Homo sapiens: one gene and its partners. The protein of the gene in region 3 purifies or fractionates together with the protein of the main gene of each other region. This does not show direct contact. Each region holds a gene or a part of one and is shown on either strand. Other genes may lie near its edges.

Region 1 (2,581 bases), on a different chromosome or scaffold from region 3:
ATAGTAAGTCTCATGAGATCTGATGGGTTTATCAGGGGTTTCCACTTTTGCTTCTTCTTCATTTTCTCTTGCCACCACCATGTACGAAGTGCTTTTCACCTCCCGCCATGATTCTGAGGCCTCCCCGGCCATGTGGAACTGTAAGTCCAATTAAACCTCTTTTTCTTCACAATCTTGAGGAATGTCTTTATCAGCAGTGTGAAAACAGACTAATACAGTAAACTGCTAACAGTAGAGTGGGGCATTGCTGAAAAGATAGCCAAAAATATGAAAGCAAGTTTGGAACTGGGTAACAGGCAGAGGTTGGAACAGTTTGAAGGGCTCAGAAGAAGACAGGAAAATGTGGGAAAGTTTGGAACTTCCTAGATACTTGCTGAATGGCTTTGCCCAAAATGCTGATAGCAATATTGACAATAAAATTCAGGCTGAGGTGGTCTCAGATGGAGATGAAAAACTTTTTGGGAACTGGAGTAAAGGTGACTCTTGCTGTGTTTTAGCAAAGAGACTGGCAGCATCTTTCCCTTGCCTTAGAGATTTGTGGAACTTCGAACTTGAGAGAGATGATTGTGAGACGTGGAGTCAAAGGTGATCATTTTGGAGGTTTAAAATTTGACTGCCCTGCTGAATTTTGGACTTGCATGGGCCCTGTTACCCTTTTGTGTTGGCCAATTTCTCCCATTTGGAATGGCTGTATTTACCCAATACCTGTACCCCCATTGTATCTAGGAAGTAACTAGTTTACTTTTGATTTTACAGGTTCATAAGTGGAAGGGACTTGCCTTGTCTCAGATGAAACTTTGGACTGCGGACTTTTGGGTTAATGCTGAAATGAGTTAAGACTTTGGGGGACTGTTGGGAAGGCATGATTGGTTTTGAAATGTGAGGACATGAGATTTGGAGGTGCCAGGGGTAGAATGATATGGTTTGGCTGTGTCCCCACTGAAATCTCAACTTAAATGGTATCTCTCAGAATTCCCATGTGTTGTGGGAGGGACCCGGGGGAGGTAATTGAATCATGGGGGCCAGTCTTTCCTGTGCTATTCTCGTGATAGTAAGTCTCACAAGATCTGATAGGTTTATTAGGGGTTTCCACTTTTGCTTCTTTCTCATTTTCTCTTGCTGCCGCCATGTAAGAAGTGCTTTTTGCCTCCCACCATGATTCTGAGGCCTCCCCAGTCATGTGGAACTGTAAGTCCAATTAAACCTCTTTTTCTTCCTGGTCTCAGGTATGTCTTTATCAGCAGCGTGAAAACAGACTAATACAACCAGATATATATTTTATTGCATTTTGCCTGTTTATAACCTATATTGCAAAACAATAGATTCATTTTTGCCTTCCCAAATATAAAACTATTTTAATATTGAATATGCTTTTTCAAACTCTACAGCCCCCTTCTCTCCCTCATTCCTTATGAGATTTTGATACACTTCTTAATGGGCAAGAGATCTTTTTCTTGAGAATCACTGAACCAAAACCCAATTTCTGAATTATTATTCAGGATAAAGTGCAATAACCATGACTGAAGAAACAGTATTCAATTAAAATACAGAAATTGTCAACTGAAAAATAGTGCATGACAGAATATCCAACACTGTATTGAATATTTTCTGATTATTAAACCAAATTACTTAAACCTTATACTTGAAAACTAATGCACATTGGTTTTTAAAATGACCTACTGAAACCACCATAAAATGTATCTTTTATACAGGTTAATTATAGTAACAAATCATATTGCTTTACATTGTTAAAATAATATTTTCTTCAATCATATGACCTACAAAATTATACCCTTATTTTCCACTGATTCTCATATTTAAAACCAGAATTTTTAGATTTTTCTAAATAAATTTTCATCAGTTTTGACTTCGCTTGCAACTTAGAGTTGAATCTATAAAGTACTGGATAAAAATTGCCTACTATGTAACAAATATTTCCCTGATGCCACAAGATTAAGATTTAATAGGAATATAAACTATTTCTATAAGTAATATTGTACTTCAGATGCCTTTATTTTTCCAAATGATGGGATGAAACTTCTGTATACTCTGAAACTAGAATGATAATATAAATACCCAGCCAGGCACGGTGGCTCATCCCTGTAATCCCAGCACTTTGGGAGGCCAAGGTGGGCGATATCCAGAAGCCAGAAGACCAGCCTGGGCAATATGGTAAAACCCCATCTCTACTAAAAACACAAAAATGAACCAGGCATGGTGGTGCACACCTGTAGTTCCAGCTACTTGGGAGGATGAGGCATGAGAATCACTGGAACCCAGGAGGTCAAGGCTGCAGTGAGCTGAGATCGCGCCACTGCACTCTAGCCTGGGTGACAGAGTAAGACAGAGTAAAAATATATATATGTATGCGTATACAGCTTTAAAAACAGTTTTGGAAAAAAATACAGGTGCTTATTTCCCAAGTTTAAAAGTGGATCTCCTGTGCCTAAGTTAAACAGCCTGAAAAGAGAAAACCAAAAAGGCCAACACCAGGACCCTGACTAAGGGCTTCATTAAAATATTCGAATGCTGTGGAAGTTTATTCCCACGCAAGGCACTTACTCCCAACAAGACACAACCG
Region 2 (3,689 bases), on a different chromosome or scaffold from region 3:
AGCATAAGCCTGCTGGGTTCATCCAATACTAAAATTATATAATTCTTTGAAAGATATTATTTTTGAAAATCAAAACAACAAAGTGATTATCTAGCTTACTTATGTGATTCTCACAATGAGTTACCCTATTATTGCTATAAGAAACTTCAATAAGTCTTACTTATATTTGTACATATCCTATTACGTAATTTTTCAGCCATATATCTCCTGCATGAAGTGAGCTACACCTGCAGCTCATTTTAGATTTCTAAATCACACTGATTTCTTACCAATGAATTAAGAGATTGACAGTTTAGGTAGATAATTCGCTACAAGAAGATAATGAGCAGTTACAAAAGTATGTCATATTTTTCGAAACCCTAATATTGTTCATATTGAAAGACTTTACAATGATTGAAAAAGAAAGAAACATCAAAAATAACACAAAGTTTCTCAAAATAAAAGAAAAATTAAATTTTCTGGCAGATTAGGCCCACAGATTTAATTTAGATAAATTCATTAATTTTAACTTTAATAAAAATAAAACTAAGACATTTAAAAACATTTAGAAAGTAGATGTCCAACATTTTTCTAATATTTAACAATATTCAAGAGAAAAATTATGAAGAAAAATTCAAGTGAAGCTAAAATTGTTTACAGTGTAGAAAATAACATGATATAACATGATAATCTGGTTGATATCAGTAAGAATTACAGTATTATTTGTATAGTGATTGATTATTTTCAAAGCTCTTTGCTATGTCAAGAGATTCCTTAGTCCATAAAACCACTGTAAGATGTAGGTAAGGCATATTATCCCTATGATTGTGTTCAAGAAAATAAGTTTCAAAATAAGTGACTTGAGAAAGTTGATACACCTAGTAAATTATAATACTAGAACCATAATTCAGACACTTAACTCCAAACTCATGGTTCTCCATCTCCCACGACCACCATAGGTTTCCTGAACTAGAGACCCATTTTCCCTACAATGTCTGGCCTGTAAACTTGTGTGATTCTGAGATGAGGAACTTTGCAACAAATTAGGTTCAAAAATCTGATACTGTGGTCAAGAAACGGTAGATATAATTAAAACCTTTTTTCTCCTGAGATATCAAAATATCCTAAGGACAAAATTATTTTGTAGGGTGATAACAATCATAATTCATATTTACCCAATTTATGAAGTATGCCTGGGTAAATTTCACAACTTCTAATGTAACCAATAAGCTGATAGGAATGAGATTGTTGAAAAGGATGATGAAGGTCAAGAAATTCAGTCCAAAATTACTAGCGCCACCATCTGTTGGGAGAGGCAGGAAGAACGTCATTTACAGTTTTATATTTTATTTGCATTGACCCCAAATTAGCATAATACAAGTTTTCCATACTACGCAGCTTATTTGATAATTTGGGAGGAACACTTTGCTGATAATCTATCCTAATTCTCAAGTACATCCTTCAAGATAGAATTGCATTGTGTTCAATATGTTGTTAATCCAGGTAAGAGCTGTATAAAAGTACTAAGACAGTGAAAGGACTGTCAAATATTGCAAACCCTCTTCCAAACACAAAGTTTAGAGACATCAGGGATAGCACTGAGGGTTTATAAATATAAAATCTCAATTGGGTAGAATCACTTTTATATAAATTCTTAAGAGTATTTCCAATTTAAAGCATACTTTAAAAGCAAACAAGACAGCAGCAGCAAAAACAATCCAAACTATATGAGTAATATTCAGTCCTAGGTAAATTATTCTCCTAGGTACATTATACTCTTCTTCCTCAAAATGAAAATAAAACTGCTATACCAGATACAATTATAAAGTATACAAAGAAACAGACTGATGGTAGTAACAGTTCTGATACTGAAATAATAAATCAGTAACTATAAAAACAACTTGGAATTGCTGCAAAGATAAATCAATATAATAAAAAAAATTTAAAAATACCAGTTTTTGCTATGTGATTGTACTAGAATTTGCTTTCACACTTTTGGAAGTTAAGTCTTTATTGGCTAAGTACTCATGAAATGAAAATGTAAACTCATTTGACAGAAATATCCAGGGGTGGTACATTAATATCACAATAATAAAAGGATAAATGCTCTAAAGGAAAACTATTTACTAGCACCTTCTCTAAGATAACATTTAATATAGGACTTACCACATTACTGAGTTCAAATGAAAATACATTGGGTTTAAACATTTTTAAACCATATAAACCACTTTTTGGTACTTTTATTTAAATAAAATATAAACAAAGTATATTTTATTTAAGATAAAATATATTTAAATATTTATATTATTTAAATATATTTAAAATATTTTATATATTTATAAATACATACAATATATATTTAAATATATATGTTTTGTTATATCCACACATGGTCAATCTACTTTCTTTACCATATAGTTAACCACCTATGTTAAAAATATTTTTAAGGAATAGTTTTCGTTGATATATATAATAAATGACTATACTTAGTGAACATTTTATACCACTATAGAGTGCTCATTATGTTTTTAAGGATTCTGAAATTTTAGGATTCCCAAATTTTACTTACACTTGCTAGAAATCTCACTGAAAAATAAAGATCAAATGTCCAGCTATCTTGGCAACAAGGTCTTTTTAGAAACAATACGAAATAAAGTAAATCAAGATCAATTGTGAAACAAATACATGTCTTAATCTAAAAAAGTGCAGTAAGCACTTTATTGCTTACAGTTTAGATTGAGATACCAGTCTTTTCCAGAATGCCTTCGATTCCAAATGGCTGAGCCCACAGAACAGACAAGAGACATGGCAATTAAGATACAAAATAAAATCAAAATTTGTACATTTGTAATCCGTTCCACATTTGAGAGCTTAAGTGGTGGACTTGTTGAATTCTGTAAAAAGAAACAAGATGAGTAATAAAAAATGTACACCAATGATTTAGCAATCTATACTTAGTATTCTGTTGAGGATGACAAAGTCACAACTCAGTATCTAGATGTGGGTGGATACGTGAAAATTATGTGAAACCCATGACAAATGTAATAAGGTGCCAATGGTTAACCACCTTTTTTTCAAGGCCACTACACCACCCAGGCCTTTTTCTAGGAAGTAAACTATAAGAAAGAAGAGAACGAAATTACATTCCCTTTGCAAAAATAGCTTTTGCATTGTGGCAGGTAAGATGAATAATGCATTACTTGGCTATGTAAGCAAACAGGGTAGTCTAGAAACATTTAGTGTTTCCGTTCAGGAAGACAGGCAGACAAGGCAGCCCATGCTCCCGCAAACAGGCACCTGGAAATTTGAACATAGGAAGGCAACATTTAAAGGATCTCCGGCTTTCAAATTTCTGGTGGCATTTAGCAATTGTTTTACTGAACGCAGCAACAATTTAAGTAGTCCTGGCTATAAAGAATAACAGAGGCAAGTTGCCTCAGTTGTATTTGATGATTCAAATGGTTATGTAGACCTGTGCTAACCAAAAAATCCATAGAACAGAAAATTAAATGTCAGAATGAATATGAAATGAAGATTTATAGAATTTATAAAATGGCTAGTGGTGGAATCACTAACAGCAATCTCGCTTGCCTATTGATAATACCTTCATGCCTGTACAAGGTACAAAGGTATTAGCTCTGAGAGCAGATTTTCATTTAGTTTCTTAAAACTGTTTTCCACACCCATCTGACTATTGAATATTGATGGTA
Region 3 (4,245 bases):
GCTCAGGCCTGTAATCCCAGCACTTTGGGAGGCCAAGGCGGGTGGATCACCTGAGGTCAGAAGTTAGAGACCAGCCTTGCCAACATGGTGAAACTCCGTCTCTACTAAAAATACAAAAATTAGCTGGGTGTGGTGGCGTAGGCCTGTAATCCCAGCTACTCGGGAGGCTGAGGCAGGAGAATCACTTGAACCGGGGAGGCTGAGGCTGCAGTGAGCCGAGATCGCACCACTGCACTCCAGCCTGGGCGACAGAGCAAAACTCCGTCTCAAAAAAAAAAAAAAAAAAAAAAAATCAGGACATAATTGAGGAAATATGAACACTGAGTATTTTGTAAGTATTATTATTATTTTATTATTATTATTTTTTGAGACGAAGTCTTGCTCTTGTCACCCAGGCTGGAGTGCAGGGGCGTGATCTCGGCTCACTGCAAGCTCCGCCTCCCAGGTTCACGCCATTCTCCTGCCTCAGCCTCCCGAATAGCTGGGACTACAGGCACCCGCCACCACACCCGGCTAATTTTTTGTATTTTTAGTAGGGACGGCGTTTCAGGCGTTTCACCTTGTTAGCCGGGATGGTCTCGGTCTGCTGACCTCAGGTGATCCGCCCGCCTCGGCCTCCCAAAGTGAGTAAGCATTATTTTTATTTGCTGTGATAATAGTACTGTAGTTATGTTAAAAAGAGTCCTTATCTTTTAGAGGTAAATAATTGAAATATTTACATATGAAATGACATGGTATCTGGGATTTGCTTCAAAATACACAGTATGTATGAGCATAAGGCAAGACTGGCCATGAATTGATAACTTTAATCTGGGTGCTGGTTACATGGGGGCTCATTATATACTTCTCTTAATTGCCATATATGCTCCTTCTCTATAAAACTTATCATATTCTAAATAGCAAAAACAGTATGTTACTATTATTTCCACTTCACTTGCTCTCCAGTGGGTATGTAAAGAGGGAAAATAAAAAAGGAAATGGTTGTAACAAACGTAGCCACCTAAAGCCAGGAAGGACAGGGCCAGTACCATAAGATCCATACACTCAACACATGAATCAAGTAGGGATTGTTTTTAAAAGGGATGCTATAAGCTACTTTTTTAAAAATCAACTTTATTGAAGTATAATTTACGTGATAAATGTATACATTTGTCCATCTCAATCTTTATTGAGATGTATAACTTTTCTATCCACATCTCTGCTAACATTTGGTATTATCAGCCTTTTGGATTTTAGCTATTCTAGTGGGTGTATAGTGCCTCGTTGTAATTTTAATCTGCATTTTCCTGAGAATAATGTTTAACATTTGTGCTAAATTTTGATTATACATATACATATTTTTCAATTGTAACAATGTAATAATCTCTGGCAAATATCTTTATTATAACTTTTATTTCTGTATTTCTATATTATTTTATGAGGAATATTATACAATTTGAACACTACAAGCCACAGAAAATGATCAGTTTATGGAACTAAGTCCGACTTCCAGGTAAAACGTAACTATGGTATGGTATTTACAGTTTGTGTTGACTAAAATAAGCTCCCGGCTGCCAGATGGAGCTATAAGGTTGCCACCTCTACTGCCACCATCTGGTAACATTAAAAACAAATAAAAATATAGAAACTATACAATTCTGGGTTAGCCAAAGTCAAATTTCCAACACAACTCTTTCTCACGCACAGATCTTTGAAACTATAGAATGCATTCAAACTGATTTGTTCTTTAGTTTTCGTTACTTTTAAATAAACTATATTACAAAAGTGTCAAATAGCAAAATATTTTAATTTTCTCAAATTCAGGGAAGATGCTTTATGACGTACCTGCTTTTCGATTTGTTCCAAGACCTTTGGCAAATTACTTTAGAACTCCATAGGTATCTTGAGGATAACTGAACCTTTTCCTAACTTAAATCATAGACTGCCAGACGGAAAAAAAATGTCCTCGATGTTTTTAGTCTCTTACTGCACAATGTCAAGATATCAGCTGGGTTATACAATAGTTGCCCTCTGCATACTCACAAATGTTAACTCCAGTCCTTTTTTGTCTTCCCTCCCCGCCTAAGAAGCTACCAGGTCACATGCTGGCGGATACGCAGTGGCGGAAACCTAGCGGTGACAGGGAAGGACAGCCCTCTGCCTACTGATCTGCAGGTTTCTCCTCCAGTTTGCTCTTACACCGGGGTCCTCCGCTCGGACCTTAGCCCATTCATTTGATGATTCTCTCCCAGTTCGTTCTTCCACTGGGTCCCTTGCTCAGCACTACCCAAAATAACCACCAGCTCAGCGCCGGCTGCACCGCCGCTCCCCCGCCCCCGCCCCCGCCCCCGCCCCCGCCCGGTGGGGCTGCACCTGCCGAGGCCCCGGCTCGGCTCCGCGATCACGGTCGCGGCCCCCGGGGTTCCCGAGGGGCTTCTGCGCACCGAGGCAGGCGGGACTGAGCGGCACTCTGAACGGGCTCCCCTCTTAATGTCCCCTCGCGCCTGAGCAGCTCCGGTCCCGCCGGCGCAGGGTGCGGGTACCCGGGCCATGCCGGCCCAGAGACCGCCGCCCCCGGTACCGCTGCCCACTCGAAGCCCCTGGACGACCCCGCCGCTTACCGGCTTCGGCCCGTGGGGCGCCCGGTAGAAGAGGCGTGCGGTCCGTGCTCTCCTCGCCATCGTTCCGGGCCAGGTCTCGAACCGGAGACCTCATGACGCCTACGTGAGCAGGTGTACTCGCCACCTGGCAGAGAAGGGAGCGCCGGCCCGACAGCCCGAAGCCCCCGGGCCGAGCTGGCTGGACCGGGCGGGGCGGGGGCGATGACACCGCCCCGCGGCCACGTCTAGTCCCCGCGGTCCCGCCCAGAGGCGGCCGCGCCGACTCCGCCCCCGCCGCCATCTTAGGTGTGGGCAACTCTGGCTTGGGTTGGACTAGGGAAGCGGAGTTCTGGGAGTTCTCGTAGGATTGGCGCAAAGTGAGCCCGCTCCGCCCGCCGGTCTACGCATGCCGGGGAGCCGGTGTTCGGACGACCGTCTCCCGCTCCTGCACCCCCTTGTAAAGTGCAGGGGCCACCCTGCCCGCAGCGAGGATGAGTGGGGGCTTGCGGGCGGGCAGTGGGGACTTGAATTGCACATAATTAAGGGGAGGGCTTCGACCGAACTAGGGAAGTGGGTGGTGTGCATTTCACAACTTGACATTCGCTTGTTAGCGGTCAGTTGCCATACTGTTAGCAACCTTTGTACGATCTACCTCGTGACTGTGGCGGCATATTTACCTCGTGACTGTGGCGGCATATTGTCCCTAAAATAGCTTTTTTTTTTTTTTTTTTTTCTCCCAGGCAGGGTCTTGCTCTGTTGCCCAAGCTGGAATGCAGTGGCGCAATCGCAGCTCACTGCAACCTCCAACTCCTGGACTCAAGCGATTCTCTTCAGCTCCCCCAAGTAGCTGGGACTACAGGAGCATGCCACCACATCTGGCTAATTTTGTTTCTACTTTTTATTTTTGTAGAGGCTTGGTCTTATTATATTGCCCAAGCTGGTTTCGAACTCCTGGGCTCAAGCAATCCTCCTCGGCCTCCCAAAGTGCTGGGATTACAGGCGTGAGCCACTGCTCCTGGTCCTAAAATAGCTTTTAGGCGGAAAAACAGCAATGGAAATTTGTTGAGTCCTATGATGTTGCTGGTTTTATAGGTAAAAGTAATCAACATAGGTAGTTTCATATGGTTCGACCTATGGAATCCTCTGATGTATGTGTGCATGCTTTATCTCCACGATAGAATTTGGATAGATTGTGCTAGCATTTGCGGACTCTGAAAGTGAAACTAGGAAAACCCAGCTTGCCTTGGCAGGGCAGATCTGGATCCGCCAATAAAGGCTGTCTCTGTGGAGGTAGAAAATAAGATGTAGATGCTCTCGGAGAGTTTGGTGTAGACAGGGAAGACCCACAAGCCACTAATTCAGTAAACCAGGTTAGAAGCTTAGTGAGGTTCACGTGAGAACAAAGGGGAGGGTCCTTTACCTAGAAGGGAGGGCGAGGATTTCTGTAGGCATCCCTACCTCCAGATCAGTAAATGCTAGAAAAGTTCTCAAGTTAAAGCAGCAAATCAAGCCTTGTTTCTGAGTTACTGAATTACCATGTAGATTTTTACACTCTCTAAGGGTTGTAGAAAAATGCAATTTTCAAACTGGATTATGCAGAGTCACCTGGCAAATCCTTTTAAAATGTAGATTCAGATTCAGCAGATCTGGTGTGATGGTTAATTTT
Region 4 (3,689 bases), on a different chromosome or scaffold from region 3:
ATCCTACCACTTGAGATAAGCATGGCTAACATTTTACTATCAGTCTCTTTAGACAACTATCTATGTATACATTCCTTTTTTTTTTTTTTTTGAGACGGAGTCTCGCTCTGTCGCCAGGCTGGAGTGCAGTGGTGCCATCTCGGCTCACCGTAACCTCCGCCTCCCGGGTTCAAGCAATTCTCCTGCCTCAGCCTCCTGAGTAGCTGGGACTATAGGCGTGCGCCACCATGCCCAGCTTAGTAGAGATGGGGTTTCACCATGTTGGCCAGGATGGTCTCAATCTCCTGACCTCATGATCTGCTCGCCTCAGCCTCCCAAAGTGCTGGGATTACAGGCATGAGCCACTGCGCCTGGACACATACATTCTTATAAGGAAACATACCCACACATATAAAACGTTTTGAGAAGTGGAAAGAGCATGGTTCTGAGTCAGCTTGTGTGTTATCTCTAACCTCCCAATTCCTAATCTTTAAAATGAAAATTCATGTAATACCCATGTTAGGGAGGGGTTTCAAATCAGGTAACAGATGTACAAATATATAGAGAAAAATTAAACACTTTAAAAGTACAACGTATTCATAAATATGACCATTTCCCAAAAGAAGTCAATATATTTTAGAAATCTTGTTTAACAGGGCTCACTATTTTCAACTTTTGTGGCATGGGGCAGGGGGAATGAAGTAGGGAGCAGTATGCCTCTGTGCAAAACGTAGTTTAACCTTCATTTCAGTAAATTTCCATTCTAATTATTTTTACACTAAACATCGGAAAATCAAAAACAGAAAAATTATCTTTTAGGCAGCAAAAACTTTAAGCTCAACCAATGTATACATTTAGTGTTGCTTTAATTCTAACTGTGGAGCTCACCTAACCTGACAGCCTTTCACCAGCCTCTTCAGGCAAGTGGCCCTCCCCATCTCTCACCCATCTCAGCTTTCCTCCTTCTCAGCAATAAAGAACTTAAAGGTGCCCTTATTTCATAGCCCTTAACTTTTGCTTGCCCACAAATTTGAACAGAATCGTTTTACTTGGTTCCCCCAAAAATATTAAATAACTTTGATTTGGCATTTTTTAACAATATTACAACATCATGTAAAGAAAATCATTGAAGATAAAATGCTCCTATTTTTTATTATTCTTTTCCATTAATATATTTTATTATACATAATTAAGTTACCGACACTAAAATGCTAAATGTTTTCCCACAAATAAATGTAAACCAAACCTTTTCACCCAGTTTATAATATAAATGTTACATTGGAATCATATTCTTCAAAATAAAAAGATGGGGAAAGAAGAGAGAAAGATAGAAATCTGGAGGCTTACCAGATATTTAAAAGTAATAAACCCCAAAAAAGTAATCTCAAGATTTATCTGTGCTAATTAATAGTTTATTATTTTAGTTGGGGCAACTTTTTTTTTTTTTTTTTTTTTTTTGGTTAAAGATGGGGTCTTGGTTTGTTGCCCAGGCTGGAGTGTAGCAGCTATTCAGAGGCATGATTCTAGGGCACTGTGGCCTCAAATTCCTGGTCTCAAGTGATCCTCCTGCCCCAGCTTCCGAGGAGCTGGAACTATAGGCACACACCACTGCACCCAGCTGCGAACAACTTTTTATAAATACACAAAATGACATATTTCCATCACAATAGAGTAACTTAATGCTATAAATTCCACTGAATGCCACTACAAAACCTAGAGAAAATTAAAATTTTGAAAAGCATATTAAGTAGGCTATACTTAAATCATTTATGCCTAGTGTTCCATCACTGGAACGTTAAGCATGTGGGAGTTATTTATATCCTACTGCTCAAGGTCAGCACCAAGGTCTGATGATTTTTCACAAAAAAATTTTGCAACCTCTGGCATAAATGAGTTAAGAATGATTAGAGTGTAGTCAGTTATTCAGGATATAGATACTAAAAAAAAAACATGTAAATGTGTCATGAAACAACAACAAAAATGTAAAACAGGATAAAATAAATGGTACTATTTTGTCTGATAAACCACAGGGGGATTTCTAATGTTTGTTTACTACAGTAGTCTTGGCATCCACAAAACAACAAAAAATCTTACATTAGAGAATTCTAACAGAGTATATAATTTCTGCCCCCAAATTGTCTTAGCGTTAGATGAAGCGTTTAATCAAATTTTCTATTTCTGAATACAGGGCTCATTCAGTAATAGATCTAAGCCACCACTAACGTGTTTACATCTTTCTTCTTCCCGTGTTCAAAATTTTTTTTTTTTTTTGAGACAGGGCCTGGTTTTGTCGCCCAGGTTGGAGTTCAGCGGTGCAATCTAGGCTCACTGCAGCCTCACCTTCTGGACTCAAGCGATCCTCCTGCCTCAGCCTCCCAAGTAGCTAGGACTACAGGGAGTTGCCACCACACCCCGATAATTTTTTTTTTTTGGTAGAGACGGGGTCTCGCTATGTTGCCCAGGCTCAAACTCCTAGGGTCAACTGATCCTCCCACTTTGCCCTCCCAAAGTGCTGGGATTACAGGTGTGAGCCACAACACCCAGACAAAACAATCACTTTTTTAGACCTCTACCCTTCAACATTACATAGACTTTCTGTTTAGGACCATATAATTTTGGGGGAGGAGGGGAGGAGGTATTTGGTGTAGTCTTAGAAAAGAGCAAAGCTTGTTGAGATGCAAGGGCAGGTGACCAGATAGTTTCACTCACTGCTTAAATAAATGGCTCCTAATAAATATTTATGCCTCAGCAAATAAATAAGTTATGTCAGGAACTTTGGAAGTCAATCCTAAAAGCAGAAATTGAATGTAAAGGTCTTCTGTTCATAACAGTTGACATCAGCAACACATAAACTGTCTCTTTCTAAGGAAACTACGTGGGCAAATATTGGTCTTTTATTGGAATAAAAGACCCTCATACACCTATGCTTCTGCACTGACAATACACATTTTTGATACTGAATTTCAGCTTCTAAAAGAACAATTTAAAGAATAAAATCTGATTTAAAAAAAAAAGCAGACTACCTTTCTTTGCAGTAATGTGCCCACAAAGTAAAATTGCACTGAGGTTCACACATGATGCAGGCCATCTGTCTAGGGCAAGTGAACAATGCTAAGCAAAACCCAACGATGGCTCTTACACATGTAGGCAAGCTCCCTAGGCTACAAGTCTAGGACAGTACACAAACTCTCCCCCTCTTGGCCTTTCATGAAGTCCGTTGCAGGAGGTCTATCTGTATATCTAGGGACCTTTTCTACAGATCTTCCATGGATAAATAATTCCAAGCAGCTGGTAAATTTCTCCCCTTACCTTCTTTTTTTATCACAAAAGGGAAAAGATAACACATTAACAAAACATAGTTTTACACAGTATGTTATTAGACTACTACTTGGTCTACAGATATTCTCTAATATTCAACATAATTAAAATTTTAAAAAGCACTTACTGCTACACCAGCATGGTAACTTGTTCCACAAGCAATAAGAATCAAACGCCGGCATCTCTGGATCTCCTTTATGTGATCCTTCAAACCACCCAAATTCACTGAAATAAAAGTTTGTGTACATAATTATTTAGCAAAGAACCATGTGAACTAGGCAATCGCATTTTGTGAGTATCCACTGCCAATATGAGGAAGAATACTGCTGTTTTAAAGAATTAATATTCCTCTTGGAAAGCACAGTTCTCTGTAATTTTGAAAAGTAAATTAA

Evidence for each region.
Region 1: the proteins of SLC17A5 (region 3) and ACADSB purify together in Homo sapiens (affinity purification with mass spectrometry; one large-scale study listed by BioGRID and IntAct). This does not show direct contact.
Region 2: the proteins of SLC17A5 (region 3) and ATP8A1 purify together in Homo sapiens (affinity purification with mass spectrometry; one large-scale study listed by BioGRID and IntAct). This does not show direct contact.
Region 4: the proteins of SLC17A5 (region 3) and GFPT1 purify together in Homo sapiens (affinity purification with mass spectrometry; one large-scale study listed by BioGRID and IntAct). This does not show direct contact.

The regions. Positions count from the first base shown.
Region 1 is NC_000010.11:123,053,817-123,056,397, reverse strand, and holds part of ACADSB (short/branched chain specific acyl-CoA dehydrogenase, mitochondrial isoform 1 precursor), read right to left. Parts: 3' UTR 1-2,581. UniProt on the Homo sapiens protein: Short and branched chain specific acyl-CoA dehydrogenase that catalyzes the removal of one hydrogen from C-2 and C-3 of the fatty acyl-CoA thioester, resulting in the formation of trans-2-enoyl-CoA.
Region 2 is NC_000004.12:42,577,106-42,580,794, forward strand, and holds part of ATP8A1 (phospholipid-transporting ATPase IA), read right to left. Parts: intron 2,874-3,689; coding exon 2,708-2,873; intron 1,283-2,707; coding exon 1,155-1,282; intron 1-1,154. UniProt on the Homo sapiens protein: Catalytic component of a P4-ATPase flippase complex which catalyzes the hydrolysis of ATP coupled to the transport of aminophospholipids from the outer to the inner leaflet of various membranes and ensures the maintenance of asymmetric distribution of phospholipids.
Region 3 is NC_000006.12:73,651,193-73,655,437, forward strand, and holds the start of SLC17A5 (sialin), read right to left. Parts: upstream 2,801-4,245; 5' UTR 2,695-2,800; coding exon 2,601-2,694; intron 1-2,600. UniProt on the Homo sapiens protein: Multifunctional anion transporter that operates via two distinct transport mechanisms, namely proton-coupled anion cotransport and membrane potential-dependent anion transport.
Region 4 is NC_000002.12:69,338,728-69,342,416, forward strand, and holds part of GFPT1 (glutamine--fructose-6-phosphate aminotransferase [isomerizing] 1), read right to left. Parts: intron 3,523-3,689; coding exon 3,425-3,522; intron 1-3,424.